Regions from separate parts of the Homo sapiens genome. Here region 2 is linked to region 1. The links come from fine-mapping of genetic effects on gene expression. Tissue or cell type: whole blood. Region 1 holds a variant in brackets; the other region holds the start of a gene. All regions are shown on one strand. Distances are between the middles of the regions.

The links. PIP is the estimated chance that this variant, and not a neighbour inherited with it, causes the effect.
Region 2: BNC2 starts here. The variant in region 1 is fine-mapped to the expression of BNC2 in whole blood (TOPMed, PIP above 0.99).

What each region holds. Positions count from the first base shown.
Region 1 is chr9:16,838,049-16,846,385 of GRCh38, forward strand. The region is part of intron 1 of BNC2 (basonuclin zinc finger protein 2); the gene reads right to left. Among named protein-coding and RNA genes, the nearest start is that of BNC2, 28 kb to the right of the region's middle. The variant G/T (reference allele first, on the strand shown) is at 4,641.
Region 2 is chr9:16,866,209-16,874,545 of GRCh38, forward strand. BNC2 (basonuclin zinc finger protein 2) reads right to left here and starts at 4,462. Exons shown (of 7, transcript NM_017637.6): 1 at 4,438-4,462. The coding sequence starts at 4,440. RefSeq lists an enhancer at 1,226-2,425.

The DNA of each region.
Region 1 (8,337 bases):
CAAGATCACTACTGCCCTTTGGAGCTATGCAAGTCTGATGGCTCAGGCTACCAGGTATTTAGGTCTACTTAAATAAGGCATACATAATGCGATATTTACACTGTACACAAGTTTCAACCTACCACATATTTTTAACCAAAAATGTTTCTTTGGAATTTTTTTCCATGTACAAATACATACTGACAGTTTAATTCTAGATAGACTTTTACAGGAAAAACAAAGCAGGCCAGGCATGGTGGCTCACACCTGCAATCCCAGCACTTTGGGAGGCCAAGGCGGGCGGATCACCTGAGGTCAGGAGTTCAAGATCAGCCTGGCCAACATGGAGAAACCCCATCTCTACTAAAAAGAAAAAATACAAAATCAGCTGGGTGTGGTGGCGCATGCCTATAATTCCAGCTACTCGGGAGGCTGAGGCAGGAGAATCGCTTGAACCCCAGAAGCGGAGGTTGCAGTGAGCCAAGAGCACTCCATTGCACTCCAGCCTGGACAACAAGAGCGAAACTCCGTGTTAAAAAAAAGAAATGCGAGTTGTTACCTCAAATGTTTTAGTTCTGTGGATGTCACTGTAAAAACTGATCACCACAGAATCACATCACACTACCACATATGAACTGCATAATGGTAAATCCAGTGTTTTCAGATTCCCCAACTTAGACTTCAAAGTAGACATGATCTTCACCTGGTAGCTCACAGTTGCTCTTAGGTAAAATTGTATTTCAACTATGGATTCAACATTATTTATAGTGTACTTATTGTATGCGTGGCTTATGCTAGGTTGGGTGATTCCAACATGAGTAAAACATGACTCCTGACCCACAGTAAGGACAACATTAATAGTACTTGAGAAAGATACAAAGAAATACAAAAAGGCTATTGTATTGGTCTATGTGTGCCACAAATGTGGTTGCTACATACAGTTTCTTAAGGAACACACGTGAAAGAAAACTACTAATTTCACTAGTCAGTAGAGGTGAGCTAACAGAAGTTAGCTCTTAATAATTCCTCCTTGCAGAAAGAGCTGATACATAAAAGTTTCTAACAGAGTTTCCAACATAGTGGATTAAACTGTTAACAATTCTGGATAATTTTCTCAGATAAAAGACACTAGAAACTTAAGGATTCTTTTCCTTAAAAGTGAAGCAATAATTCTGCAACAGTTTGTATATAATATACATATCTGAAAGTAATCTTAGTTGCTTTCAATACTGCTCAACCAATCATAACTAGCACTCGTTGCTAAGGCTATGCATCTTTTAATGCCATGTTTATATTATGCTATGTATCAATACGGTAAAAGTTACACGCCATCACCCATTTTGTACCAGTCTTCCTTCTATGTAGTACTAAAATACTGCCCAAATTACTAGTTTTGAAAGCTATCCTAGAATAGAAATAAAATGCCCTATACCAAATATTAAGCAATGATAAACATTTAATTAACTGTGGCTCATTAGATGATTACCTATCTGAAAGGACCTACTATGTTTGACTCACACAGATATGCAGGTTAGAAGAGAACCCCATGCAAGTCTAAAGCACGCTGCGCACTCTCTAGCTCTCGGACCAACGATTTCATTCCTTCTTAGGCGCCATCACTATATGCCTATTAGGCATCCAGCTCTATAGCACGTAATTCTCTCCCAAAACTAGAAGTACACTGGCTTTCAGTCAGAAAAATTAAAGGCTGATTAGAAGATCCTCTCAACCTTACAGCCAAGAAAAACGTAATTTCCAATATATAGACTGAATTGAAAAGGATTTTTACAAATGATTAGTCAACCAATGCGGTGTGGTGCATGTACCTACGTACAAACATGCATGCCTGCAAGCACACACCCACCACCACCCCATGACAGTCACCAGAAACTGCTAAACTAATCCCAGAACTCCTTCCAATGACCCAAGCAAGACACAGCTGCAGGATTCTCTTCTCAATAGCCTTTACCAATCTATCAATATTGATAAGAGTTGAAACCTGTTTTCCATCTTTAACTTACTCTTTACATCTTTACTGTTTTACATCTTTAACTTCAGATAAGGAGGTCTAAAGAAGTACCAAAGAAGTTACAAAGATCAAACAGGCAGTCAGTGACAGAGTCTGGGTTAGAAAAAAATCCAGACCTTGTGCCTTCTGGTCCATACCACAGAGCCTATCTGCAATGTTTATCACATACCCACTAAACCTTACTATTCCTTAATTTCTCTGTGTCCTGATCATTTAACTTCTTACCATCTCATTTTGGCAGCCACATACGCTCCTCTCCCTTTTGCTTTTACAGAATCCAATGCCCCTGGCATAAAAGGGGAGAGAACTTACTGCCATTTCATATCCACGCAGTTAATGAATGCCCATAGTTAACATGGCGTCTCCCCCTTAAGCCACTAGCTGTCACTCAAAAGTTCACTCTAAAGCTTGACCTTTGCTTCTGCTCAGAAGTATTTATTCACCCTATCACAAGTGTTTTTCCTTTAATGTCATGATGGCAAAAATACTGCAGTGGTTGTATGCCTTTCCAAATACGCACATCTGTGACAAACACTATACAGTTTTGTCACTAAGACTCAAGAACTTAGATGGTAAGATATACCAAAAGCAAAAAAGAATTACCAGGTCAAGGGACTGGGTAAAATTGGTATTCCTATGCTTGTTACCTGCCACAGAAACCAAGTACAATGTTTATAAACCTGACACCAAATAAACATTTCAATCATAGTTATTTCAGCAGTTCTAATGTCAAATGAGCCTACAACTGCTCATCAGAGAAGGGTTACCACATGTATGCACTCAGATTGGAAAATATCTTCACTACTCTTTAAATACCATAACATATTTTGGCCACTCCACAATAAACAGGCCTAACTGTAGATAATATTGTATCTAACAAAATCAGCTTTTTTGACTGAAATCCCACCAGTTCCACCACTATAACCTCTCAGCTAGGGTAATTAGTATTTTCGTTGTTCTTCCGATTCCACATTTGAACACTGTAGTTCTCTACTTCACGGGCAGAAATGACCTCATGGGCAATGTTCTAGGCAGATAAAAAGGTCACAAATTAATGGGCAAAAGAGTCCTTTCTTTAAACAACACATAAGCAAATCTGAAAGATATCCACCGTTTTAATGAGTTTTTGTTTGTCAGGCACTGTGCTGATCCTTACCCAAACTATGTCTTATTGAATTCTCATTCCAACCCTAAGCAATGACAGTTATTACCCTCCATATTTAAAAATGAGGAAATCCAGGCTTAAAGAAATTCTGTCCCTTGTCAAACTTCCCACAGCATAGTTGGGATTCAAACTCAGGACTCCGACGCTTTCTATACCTACACTGCCTATGCTACTTCCACTACACTATAAATACTTAGAAAACATTTGTAAAAATGTTGTGAGGCCATCAGAACTGTAACTAATTATTCCTCAAAATGTAGATATCCTGGCTAAACTGTATGTCCATAATCAAACCATCATATCATCAAAAGCTAATCAAACCAGGGCATAAGGTCTGTGTGGGTCATTTAAGTTAACAATGGAACCCTTATGATCCTTGAGTGGTTTCACTGCACTGTGGTATTCACCATGCCTTCTTATAAAATCAAAAATACAAAGTTTGAAAATGTTTAAACACTTAAAACGTGAAAAAAAAGATAAAATACTTCAAAATAAAAGATTAATCCATGAAAAGAGCTGCATGCATGATGACTGCCCATTGCAAAAGATGTATTTCCGAAGCCTATGTCTGCAAGACATTATTATCAAATTTGTTTTTTTTTTTTGAGACAGAGTTTCACTCTTGTTGCCCAGGCTGGAGTGCAATGGCACAATCTCAGCTTACTGCAACCTCCACCTCCCGAGTTCAAGTGATTCTCCTGCCTCAGCCTCCCAAGTAGCTGGGATTACAGGCATGCACTACCACGTCCATCTAATTTTCTATTTTTAGTAGAGACAGGGTTTCACCACTTTTGGTCAGGCTGGTCTCGAACTCCTGACCTCAGATGATCCACCTGCCTCGGCCTCCCAAAGTGCTGGTATTACAGGCGTGAGCCACACACCCGGCCTGCAAGACATTATTTAATGCACATATTTTTTGGAGTTTTGAAGCTGCTTTGCCTTATGTTATTTTAACATATGAACCTCCACTATGATTTTTAGTATCTTGCAAACTGTTGACCTACCAAACTAGTAAGAGAAATTCACTTAGAAAAGATGCTGGCATTAGAATTTCCAAAATAGTTCATGTAGATATAAGTATGATACTTTCTGTTTCTGTGATAGGAAAAAGAAACGAATGGGTGTTTGGCACTTGCATTACACAGATACCATGCTAGGAATTTTCACATATGTCATCTCAGAAACACTCCAGCATAAATATTATTATACCTATTTTATAGAAAACAGTGGGTCAAAAAGTAAAAGATGCTAAGGGCTGGGGAGGGAGAATGGAGGATTTACTGTTGAGGATAGAGTTTCTCTGTGGAGTGACGAAAGCGTTCTAGAACTAAATAGTGTTGATGGTTCCACAGCCTTGTGAGTATACTAAAAACCAGTGACTATACACTTGAAAATGGTGAATTTTATCTCCATTTTAAAAACTGAACAATCATGGCAAACATTAACATTTGGGAAATCTGGTTAAAG[G/T]ATATATAGGAATTCATTGTATTTTTTTTTTCTGACTCTTGTGTAAGCCTGAACTTATTTTATTTTTGTTTTGTTTTACTTTGTTTTTTGGAGTCTCCTTCACTCTGTGCAGTCTTGCTGCAGTGCCATCTCGGCTCACTGCAATCTCTGTCTCTTGGGTTCAAGCAATTCTCCTGCATCAGCCTCCCAAGTAGCTGGGATTACAGGTGTGCACCACCACACCCAACTAATTTTTGTATTTTTAGTAGAGACGCAGTTTCGCCATGTTGGCCAGGCTGGAGTCAAACTCATAACCTCAAGTGAAGGCCTGAACTTATTTCAAAATTCAAAGTTTTTTAATGAAACAACAATATGAATATATTTAACATTACTGAACTGTACACTTTAAAAAGTTGAGGGTAAATCTTATCTGTTTTTTACTATAATTAAAAATAGATTTGATAGATAGATAATTGACTGATGGAGAGATAGATGAATTTGCCCAAGATTCTACCATATTCAGTAGCAGAATCAGTATTCAAATTCAGGTCTTTACAACTCCAAAGCCAATACTCTTTAAAAAGGGCAGGGTTATAATTCTGTTTGTACTAGATAGTACTGAGATGTCATTTATGGTCGTTCGAAAGGTGTACACTAAGATACATTCCTTTTTTGTGTGTGAGACGGAGTCTTGCTCTGTCGCCTAGGCTGGAGTGCAGTGGCAAAAATCTCAGCTTACTGCAAGCTCCGCCTCCCGGGCTCAAGCCTCAGCCTCCACTGCCTCAGCCTCAGAGTAGCTGGGATTACAGGTGCACACTACCACACCCAGCTAATTTCTGTATTTTTAGTAGAGACAGGGTTTTGCCATGTTGGCCAGGCTGGTCTCCAACTCCTGACCTCAAGTGATCCACCCGCCTTGGCCTCCTGAAGTACTGGGATTACAGGCGTGAGCCACCATGCCCAGCCTACATATTCTTAAGCTCCTTTTTTATAAATGAAAAATCTATTACCAAGTAAATGGGTTTTAGTAAATGTTTCTGAGCTACTTTAGGTTTACCATGTAAGACTACAAATGTGTGTGGAAGGAGAAGAGGTTTAGGTACTACGCTTTTCATCAAACAGTTACTCCCAATTGAATAGTATTTGAAAACAAGCAGAATTCATGTTAGAATTCAAGCAGAAATTCATGTTAGAATTTTTCTTCCAAGTCAAAATGCCAGAACTGATAATGCCATGAGGATGCAACGAGTATGTGAAATATCTGTTTTTATCAAATTCTGGTTTTTACTCTTAGGTTTTTTGTTGTTGTTGTTGTTCATTTAAAAATCTTTTGGCCAGACACGGTTGCTCACACCTACGAAGCACGAGGATAGCTCAAGGCTAGGAGTTCAAGACCAGCCTGGGCAACATAGTGAGTCACCATCTCTACAAAAATAATAATAATAAATCTTATAAGAGTTTAGCAATTTCTCATAAGTTTTTTTTTTTACGTTACAAAAAAAAATTACAGACAGGAGTTTCAACACACATTTTAAGTGCTAGTTTACCAAACACTGACACAAAATCTGATGGGTGTTTGCAAAAACGGGTATATCTGGGTTTGAGTTGGGGGCTTACGACTAAATACTATTAATATACCAACTGCATAAAATATCCATATGCCTTTACAAATCATGTTTACTTAAAAACGTTAAGAAGTAGAATTCAGTGTTCAATCAAGTACACACCTTAAAAAAAATCAACATTCCTTTAAAAAAAAAAGATGTCAGGTGGTAATTCTAGGGATGGGGAGCAAGAGTAGTATTTTTACGAATATTTTTCTTTTCTTTTTTTTTTTTTTTTTTTTTTGAGACGGAGTCTCGCTCTGTCACCCAGGCTGGAGTGCAGTGGCGAGATCTCGGCTCACTGCAACCTCCGCCTACCAGGTTCAAGCGATTCTTCCTGCCTCAGCCTCCCGAGTAGCTGGGACTACAGGCACCCGCCACCACGCCCGGCTAATTTTTGTATTTTTAGTAGAGACGGGTTTTCACCATGTTGGCCAGGCTGGTCTCGGACTCCTTACCTCAGGTGATCCACCTGCCTTGGCCAAAGTGCTGGGATTACAGGCATGCGCCACCGCACCCAGCCATTTTTCATTTTTTTATATCAATAACTATCCAGTCATTTCTGGGAAAGGTATTATTGGTATTTGGGGCAGAACAACTCATCACTGTATGTAAATTGTTCTGCAATCCTGATGCTGCAGTGTCCCTGACCCACTAAATAGCAGGAGGCAGCCCCCCAGTTGAGTCATTTGTGACAAACAAAACATCGCCCAAGATTTCCAAACACTGTGTAGGTAGTAGCATCACCAGGTTCAGAACCCAAAGAAGCCTAAACCCCCTCCACCTGTCAGTACTTCACAGCGAACTGATGAGTAGGAAGTTCCTATCAGTCGGGCTGGGGGCCAACCTTCCCAGGCACTGCCAGGATGCCCCATGTTTTGAAATAACTTTCTCTTAGGCAGCCTATCAGTGTAAATTCGGATTTCTATCATGTTATTCTTAAAACCAAACATACCTGCATTAATTTGACTGACACCATAAAAATTCTAAGAGAAATGGGCATTTTTTTAAAATGGAGGGAGTTTTTAATTATTCAACACCAGCTTTTTTACAGTTACAGTCCTCAGAAGTCACATGGCCTAGACCATGGAGCTTTTCAAATGCTACAAGTCATAATATACGCATTAGAAAGAAACCACGGTAGTTGGGTTTTCAAAATAGGAAAATTGGCCGGGCGCGGTGGCTCACACCTGTAATCCCAGCAATTTGGGAGGCCAAGGCGGGCGGATCACAAGGTCAGGAGATCGAGACCATCCTGGCTAACACAGTGAAACCCCATCTCTACTAAAAATACAAAAAATTAGCCGGGTGTAGCGGCGTGGGCCTGTAGTCCCAGCTACTTGGGAGGCCGAGGCAGGAGAATGGCGTGAACTTGAGAGGCGGAGCTTGCAGTGAGCCGAGATCGCACCTCTGCACTCCAGCCTGGGCGACAAAGCAAGACTCCGTCTCAAAATAAAATAAAAATAAAATAGGAAAATTATACCAAGAATCCAAACCCCACGTTCCAGAACACAAAATGTTCAAGTTCAATGCCTCTGCATACTTAAGTTACCATATGACAGAAACAATGCAGAATTTATAAAAACTAATTTAGTGGCCCGGGCGCGGTGGCTCACGCCTGTAATCCCAGCACTTTGGGAGGCCGAGACGGGCGGATCAGGAGGTCAGGAGATTGAGACCATCCTGGCTAACACGGTGAAACCCCGTCTCTACTAAAAATACAAAAAAATTAGCTGGCCGCGGTGGCGGGCACCTGCAGTCCGGAGGCTGACGCAGGAGAATGGCGTGAACCCAGGAGACGGAGCTTGCACTGACCCCAGATCGCGCCACTGCACTCCAACGTGGGAGACAGAGCGAGACACCGTCTCAAAAAAAAAAAAAAAAATTAATTTAGTATAAAATTAAAAAGAGCTACGTTTGAAATATAGTTTTGGTGAATTTCTAACTGTAAAAAAAGAAAAGATGCTTCAAAGTAATACATTAACTTAATAAGAGGAAAGAAAATCCAGCATTTTCAGTGTTAAATTCTAAACCATTATCAATAACAGAACTGTACAATCTTTTCACTATTTCCTTAAGCAAAGCCCAAAAGGTCTGCTCATTAATAAGAAAAG
Region 2 (8,337 bases), 28 kb after region 1:
ATGTAATATCATTTAAATCCTATTTCTTTAACTTATTTTTTGATCCATAATAAGTCAGGTTTATAAATAGTTTAACATTTATGCTTATAACAGGAAGCATTTATTTTAAAGAAAATTTCTCTCTGGAATACAGAAGTTGTATGTAGAACTACTCCAAAACCATCATTTACAGAAAAGGGGTTGTCCTTCATAAACTAAAAGAAGTTAACCCACTTCTCGGTGATTTCGTAGGAAGCTACTTTTAATAGAACTCTGAAGACTGGCCTCCTAAAACGAGAGTAACTCCCTCAGTTGACAAAAACTACAAACAGTAGTTAGTCAAACCAAAACATTTAAAATATAGTATCTGGTTGCATTTTGCCTGATCTTCAAATCACCTGAAAGGCAAAAGCCTAGAAAGCTTAGCTGACGCCTTGACTGTTCTTGTAGAAAGTTCTTTTGCTTCTGTCACTTTTAAAAAAAAAAAAAAAAAAAAAACCATAATAGCACCTCCCAGCCTCAACACTGAGCCAGTATTCATTACCTACTCTTTTTGTGCAACATTCTGATGGCCAGAGTGTTTTTTAAACCTTAAGTATATCTAATAAAATCATGAGGCTCCCTCTAGCTCTTCAGAGGGGATTTTACTAACCAATGATACTATATAATTCCCATCCAACAGGAAAGATTTGAGGAGGCTACCTCCCCTTCCACAAGAAATGTTTTCCACTCTGTTTCTTGTAAGGATGTAGATGGTAAATGAGACCATCTGCTGAGTAAATCAGAAAGCGTTGCTCCTTATATATTTATCAAGTTAAGAATCTATAAACTGCTTCCAACCTAAGCTTTATGTACAGAATTCTATAGTGAAACTTTAATCAGATTAAACCATACGACATAAATTTACCCATCCTGTCTAAAATTAATTTTAATGTCAAAAAACAACAACATGTATGAACATCCACAGAAATTCAAACTTGTGGTCTGGTCTCAGTTTTAAAAATCTACATTTAAATGCAGAATCTCAAAAATTCAGGAAAAAAACACTTCATGAACTGTATCTGTGGGGTTTATATAAAACAAAGATGCTAATAGTATAGAAAACATTTTCATGTACCATAGTATTTATACACAATACTAGTATAATGACTTTTTTATTGTTTAATCTTACCTGCAATTTAGTATTGGATATTTGGGGATCGTAGGTTGTTTAGAAGACTATAAATAATACAGTTGAAGTATGCCATCTTACAATAACCATAAAAGCCACATTGTCAACTGGCAAATCATCTCAAACAAGTGAATGTGAACAGTACTAAATTGAACTCCTCATATTCACTAAGGCCATCTTTCAAATACTTAAGGAATATTTAAAACCGTGCTGAACCCTTAACTGTAAAATTAAAAGTAAAGGAAACCACTAACTTCAAGTCATCATCTATTTTGGACTCCCTTAATATAAGAAATATTCCCAGGAACAACAACAAAAAGAATAGCTCCCTCTACCCCCCCACCCCCACCCCTTTTTGAGCCAGTGTCCAATTTCTTCTTTTCTGAACAGCTGTATTATCCAACTTAAGTTGCTCTGCTAATTTCAGTCCCACAAGGACTAACTTGGAAGGCAAAAAAATACAAGAAAAGATCAATTTGCTGGGAAAGATCAAATGAGAAAACTGTGGGGACAGCACCAGGTCAGCGTGTGGAGAACTAAGCAGACCTGTTCTTCATTAACTGCGGCTCTCTGGGGATGTCACACACTACCTGTCCGTGGGCTTTATTGAACCGCCTAACCCGCCTCTCTGTTCCATTCTTCTGGGCCCAAGTGAATCATATCCTGCTGCTGACAAGTTAGCAGGGGACTGCGGCTGCAACATGAAAGTACTTTTCTTTCTTGTCTAAATCAGGCAGATTTTTGAAAAGACGACACAGCATTGACTCGTGACATGGCAAGATGAAACGAGAGGTCTGGGCCGGTCTTGGAGCTGTGCAGATAAAAGTAATCAAATGACACTCCTGGAATGCAAATTGGCATTCTTGACTGCAGCAATTGCACAACCATGAAACATCCCTGACAGCAAGCAAGATTAGGACAAAATGTTATGTAAAGCACTGAACTCAAGAACTCTCACTTGAAAATTCAAACTGTAACACTTACATTTTAATATAGCAATAGTCAGCTCTGCTTTTGTCTGCTTCTTTTTGTAATCACATATCTCTATCTGACAGATATCTTACATCTCAAATAGAAGAAAAAATCAGGTAGTAGGAATGTACTGCTATTAACATTTTCCTAATATTAATTGTAAAATATAATGCACAGTTTATTCTTATTCAAAGTCTTACATGCAAACACCACCCAACTTAATATTCTCAAGAGGAAAAAAAGTTTCAGACCTTTCTCAAAAGATACTCAAAACAAAGTTCAGGTTCAAGCTCGTTATTACTTCCCTCAGGTAAAGATACTCCTGTACTTTGGTAAAGTGATTAGCAATCTGGACTTTTAATACAGCGCACTCTGGGAACTAAGAACTTCATTAAGACTGAACAGTTTACATGAAACGGCTACAAATATAAAACACAGATACTCTCTAAAGGCTCACAAGGGATTGTGTGTGTGTGTGTGTTTGTCCAAAAAGTAAATGTTCTGTTAACTTGTACAAGGTCTCACTACTAGGGTACATCTTCAGATCAGACACACTAAGTAACGTGCCAGAAATAAATTCCTCCCATTTAAAGCATGTATGCGTGTGGACAGTAACACGTGAAATTGCAGAATACAAAGCAGTGGAAGGCAGACAGGCTTAGCCACAGTTCAAAGTCATTAGGATATAGGAATACATGTGTAGACAAATAGTTAACATAGGCTAGGGTAAAGGGAAGAAAAATAATACCTGCCACCGGCTTTTACAGTGTTCTTGTGTAAAACGCCCGTTAGAAGAAAAACTCTCAAGCTCTAAACAGATATATTTAATATTGTTGTGATGTCTCACTTAAACACGGCTTTCAACAATTCCAAGTGTCCACGAAGTATATAAAAATAAAACAGGCCACTTTTTGCCACTTTAATCCTGGGTACACAGGATTATTTTATGATGTCTTTTGTACGTCAGTTTTACAACAGCTTGACTCTAGGGTAAATGGGAACCATCATAAATCGCACGCTGCTTTCAAAACCACTTTAATTTCTGTCAGCGTTACTGTAACCACAGTCCTGGGCTCTTGCTTTTGTGTGTGTGTGTGTGTGTACGCGCCCCTGCATTTGACAGTCCCATCTCCTACACTCCAGTTGTGACTTTGATCACTGAAACAAGAGATGTCACATTAGGGAGCAGGGAAGAGGAAAAAATGCCAACCCGCTATCTCACCTGTATTCTCATATGTTCCCTCTATATACGGAATACACCATGTCAGATCCCCAAGTGGGGGTAACAATAGCGACGCTGGGAGGAAGCAAACTAAAAAGAAGGGAGTGGTCAAGCCCCATTTCTAACAAATCACTTCCCCGAAAGCGGACAGAGCGGCTCATCACCAGGCGAACTAATTGCACGCTTCCTCGCTGCAAAGAAGTCGCTTCTCGTAGAGGGGCTGTGCTGGAGTCTCGCTTGGCAAAGCCAGCCCATCTCCTCCACCACTTGCACTTGGAACTTTTTTTCAACCTTAAACTCACTTCACAGGAGATTTCACCTAGGGTTTTTCAGCATATATAATTTTTTATTCTGCTCCCTCCCCAGGCCCCAAATCCCACCCTCCAGTCAACGTGCAAGTAAAACAAATCGGCTCCTATAGAATTGCACTTCGAAAAGAGCCGTCTCTGCAAGGTTGATTTTCCTGCCCTGCGTTCTGCACCTTCTCCGTAAAGCCTGCGGGAGCATTTCCTCCCATCTCCATTTACCACGGGAAGATTCCGAATGTGAAGACAAGGGGAGAGGAAGAGTCAACGTGCCGGGCCCGGGCGGCTGCGCCCCAGCGCACCCGGCACCCACGCCCAGCCGCCGGTCCCTCACTCGGCGGCAAGTTGTAAAAGTTCCCGTAGGTCCCAGCCGCCTTCCTCTCTTCCCCGAGCTCCTGCCAGCGCTCCATTCATCCCCCACTCCCCTCCACCTCGTCCCCCCAGCCCGTCCCCAACGCCCTGGAGCCTCCCCTAGCCAGCCGCTCACCTTCGCGCGGAAGCCGCGAGCGGGGCCGACCTTGAGAAGCCCCCTCTCACGTGCACCCTCCCACCTAGAGCTCGCCTCAGAAACTTGGGGCCAAGTTTAGGGGAGGCCACTGGGAGCGCAGCGGGGATCAGGTCGGACCGGGGTTCTGGTCCCCGGCCCGCCCTCCTCAGCGCCCCTTGCCCCTCACGCCGCGGGCCGGAGGGCGGACACGGCCCCCGGGCGGCCCCGGTGGCGCTCGGGCGCGGGGGTCATTTCTGAGGAAGTCTAGAATAAAAGAGGAAGGAGGGTGGAAACTTCTTACCATCTCGGCATGCTGGTTGTCAAGTGCAGCCCCCGCCTCTTGGTCTCCTCTTAGCGGCCGCGCCTGGACCAGCCCCTCGGCCGCCGCTGGCTCCCTCCGTCTCGGCCTTTCTCTCCCTCCCCCTCCGAGTTCCTCCGGGCCTCCGCTCTCGCCGCCTCCGCCTCCCCGCCCGCCCGCGCGCGCCCTCGCCGCGGCCCCTCTGCGCTCAGGTGACTGATTTACACTCGCGCCGGGGTCGCGCTCGCGCCCCGAGTCCCAGCCGGCACGGTTCCCCGGCTCCTCCTCGGGACAAAAAAAAAAAAAAAGGGAACGGCTTGTCCCGGGAGGGGGCTGCCCTGCTCGCGGGAGGCGGGGGACCGGCGGGCGAGGTGACCTCGGCGGCCGTGCAAGCCCCACAAGTTTTTCCTCTCTCTGCAGAATTGTCGTGACTACAATGTTGCTTCCCTTTTGCAAAATAAAAGTCGGTCGTTGTGTTGTTTGTCCTCAGAGGTCCAGGGGCTTGGGGAAGGAGGATGTATGTTTCTCCCTCCCCCCACCGCCCCGTGACTTCTTTGGGGGCTTGTTTGTTGTTTGGGTTGTTCTTGCTCTCTCTTTCTGGGGATGGAAAAAACAACTTTGTGGGGATGGAAAAACAACCCTGGCGCCCCCCCCCCCCCCCGGGGAGCTGCGGGCGTGGAGGTAGAGGTGGCCGCTAGCGCCCAGCTGTCACACACACACAAAAAAAAATTGCGGGGCGGGGGTGGGGAGCGGAGCAAGGAGAGGAGGCTGCGAAACGCCGAGGAAAGGGCGCGAACTTTATTCCGACTGCAGCAAACCGCGGCAGCTCTTTCCTTTTCGGGCACTCGGGCGTCTCTGTCCCCTTTGACCAGTTCCTCCTCCCCAGCCCCGCACGCCCCCTCCTCCCCTGCCCCTTCCCCAGCGTCCCAGCCGCGGCCGACCCGGCTCCCCGCGACCCTCTCAGCCCAGCTCCTCCGCGCGCCGCTGGGGAGAAGGCGAGTGAGGCGGAGGAAAACCCAGCGGACAGAAACCTGGGACGCGAACGTGCTGGGAGAAAAGGCCAAAAGTTGCGCGCAGCTGGGGGAAAAAAGTTTTTCTGGTGGCGGAGCGTTTTGTGCCGGCCCAGACGCCGGCTTGCGGCGAGGGCTTCCTTCCCTTTCCCGTGGTCTGGGCCGCGGGCCTCGGGCTGGAGAGGAAGGAGGCTGTCGCGCCCGCGGGGGAAAGAACAGTCACATCTGTGGGTGACACTCAGCCGACCCAAGTCACCCTGCCCTGGAGACTCAGAAACGCCGACTACAGCCTAAGCGCGCACACGCCTGCAGCTGAACGATATTTCTTAAATACAGGCAAAACACACTCCCCGGCCGCAAGAATGGGGCGGGGGTGGGGGGGGAGCTTAATCATCATCATCTAACTAACGTACACTTTGTGCCAAAAACATCTCCGAGTTATGCAGATTTATCATAACTACAGCAAACTTTCTGGTTATCTAACATGGGAGGAAGGCATAGGTTTCAAGCATACTCCCTGAGCACTAAGAAATCAGAGAATCGGCGAAGACTTGGCAGAACAGCAGGTATGGTTACCGGTTCCTAGTGAAAAGTGAGAATCATCCCTTCTTCCCTTCTCTCTTCCTCAAACGGAGAGAGAGAGAGAGAGAGACTACTTAATTGCATTCAGAGGACAGAATTAAATTCCTTTGAAAATATGTAGCCTTGGAATTACATGGTTTTATTTTCTTTGCAGAGTCCGGTCTTAGTTTAATATAAATTTTCACAGTAACTGATTTTTTTAAATTTTTCGGGAGCCGCTGATGAGAGTCCCAAGTAGCCACAGCTGTCTTGAAAATGTGATTAGGTGGCCGGGCGCGGTGGCTCACGCCTATAATCCAACTTTGGGAGGCCGAGGCGGACGGATCGCCTGAGGTCAGGAGTTCGAGACCGGCCTGACCAACATGGTGAAACCCCATCTCTACTAAAAATACAAAAATTAGCCAACTGTGGTGGCGGGCGCCTGTAATCCCAGCTACTCAGGAGGCTGAGGCAGGAGAATTGCTTGAACCCGGGAGATGGAGGTTGCAGTGAGCCGAGATCGTGCCATTGCACTCCAGCCTGGGCGACAGAGGGAGACTCCATCTGCAAAAAAAAAAAAAAAGAAAGAAAATGGGATTAGGCTTATTATTCACGTGGATCCAGCTTTTTAACACGCACTTGCAGTTCCCTATACTGATTGGGTCCAAATTCCTGACTGTTTCCTGGCCCTTTCAAAGATTTCTGCATTCGTGGATTCTGTGCATCATTTTGTTGTGGAAAAATGTGTGGTAAACACTTCTCGCATATTATTTATCGTAAATACCTTAGAGTTCTGGGGACAGGTTGCATCTGCAGGTTTCCAATGAAAGACAAGATTACTTCTCTCACTACAGCATAAATCAAAGTATAGACTAGATCTCCCAACGACCATCTATATATATATATATTTAAATGTGTGTTATCTAAGAAGGCTCATCTTTAAATGATTTGATTAAGGTGTAGAGCATGTTCCCTTATTCTCTAAACATAACTAACATCATCCTGTAGTTTGCAGAAACTGATTACACAAGGGATAATGATGACCAAATGTGCATTTTGAAAAATTGAGGATCATCACAAGAATTTTCCAGAAATGGGCCAAGTTCCAGTATGTTTTTCTTGCATCATGGAGAGATGAGAAAAGCTAGTTGCTAATTTCAGAATCATTACCTATACAAATCCATTCACACACTTACCGCTTTGGACAAGTGACAGATCAGCAATTGCCAAACAATTGTATTCACACAGTGCATTTTTGGCTGCGCACCTACACTGACCAACATGCAGAAGTTACTCCACATCAAGCGACCTGTAATTTACATTCCCCTGATTGGTTCCACATCTGTCTGTTTTTGACGTTAGCATAACAAACAATTTATGTGAGGCAAGATGCGTCTGTTTGGGATCTCATGCCTTTCTGGAGAGTCATCATGATAAAAATGGGGCATGTGTTAGGCTGAAGAGCAGCACTTGGAGAAGGTGGAAGAATTTACAGGAGGAAGCAAAGCCTAGCATTTAAGAGGATTCCATAGTCTCATTTCATCTAGCGGTCTGTATGGCAATTGGAATAAAACCTTAAGTCCTTTTTGTATCCTGCAAGACCTGAATTATCTAAACCTGCCTGACTTTTTCGACTGTTTTATACCATTTGTTCATTACCATGGTGGACTACACTCAAGTCACATTGGCTTCCTTTCTGTTCCTCTAACTTGCAAAGCTCCTTCCTGCTCTTTGTCCCTGCTGTTCTACCTGGAGTGTTCTCCCAAGTTTTCCAATGATTCCTTCTTATCATTTATATCTCAGCTCTAATAGCAATTCTGCAGACTCTAGTTTAAATAGCCCTTGGCCCACCACTCAAAACACCCCTCATACTTCCTGTTATTACTTATTGTTGTATCCCTTTTCTATCCCTTATCAATATCTGAAATTGTCTTCTTAGTTTATATATTTATTATTTTTCTTCAACTAAAATGGAAGCTCCATAAGGGAAACAACTGTGCTGCAGGTCCTTGAATAACATCGTTTCATTCAATGTCGTTTCATTCAACGTCCTTTTGTTACAAGGCTGAGAAAAAAAAAAAAAAACTGATTCCAGCCAGGGCCACTGTATGTGTGGCATTTGCACATTCTCCCCATTGTCTGCATGGGTCTTCTCTGGATACTCCAGTTTCCTCCCACATCCCAAAGATATGCCCCTTGGGTTCATTGGAGTATCCACATGGTCCCAGTGTGAGTGATTGTGAGTGTGTGTGAGTGTGCCCTGCAGGGACTGATGGCCTGTCCAGGGTTGGTTCCTGCCTTGCACCCTGAGCTGTCTAGATTGGCTCCAGCC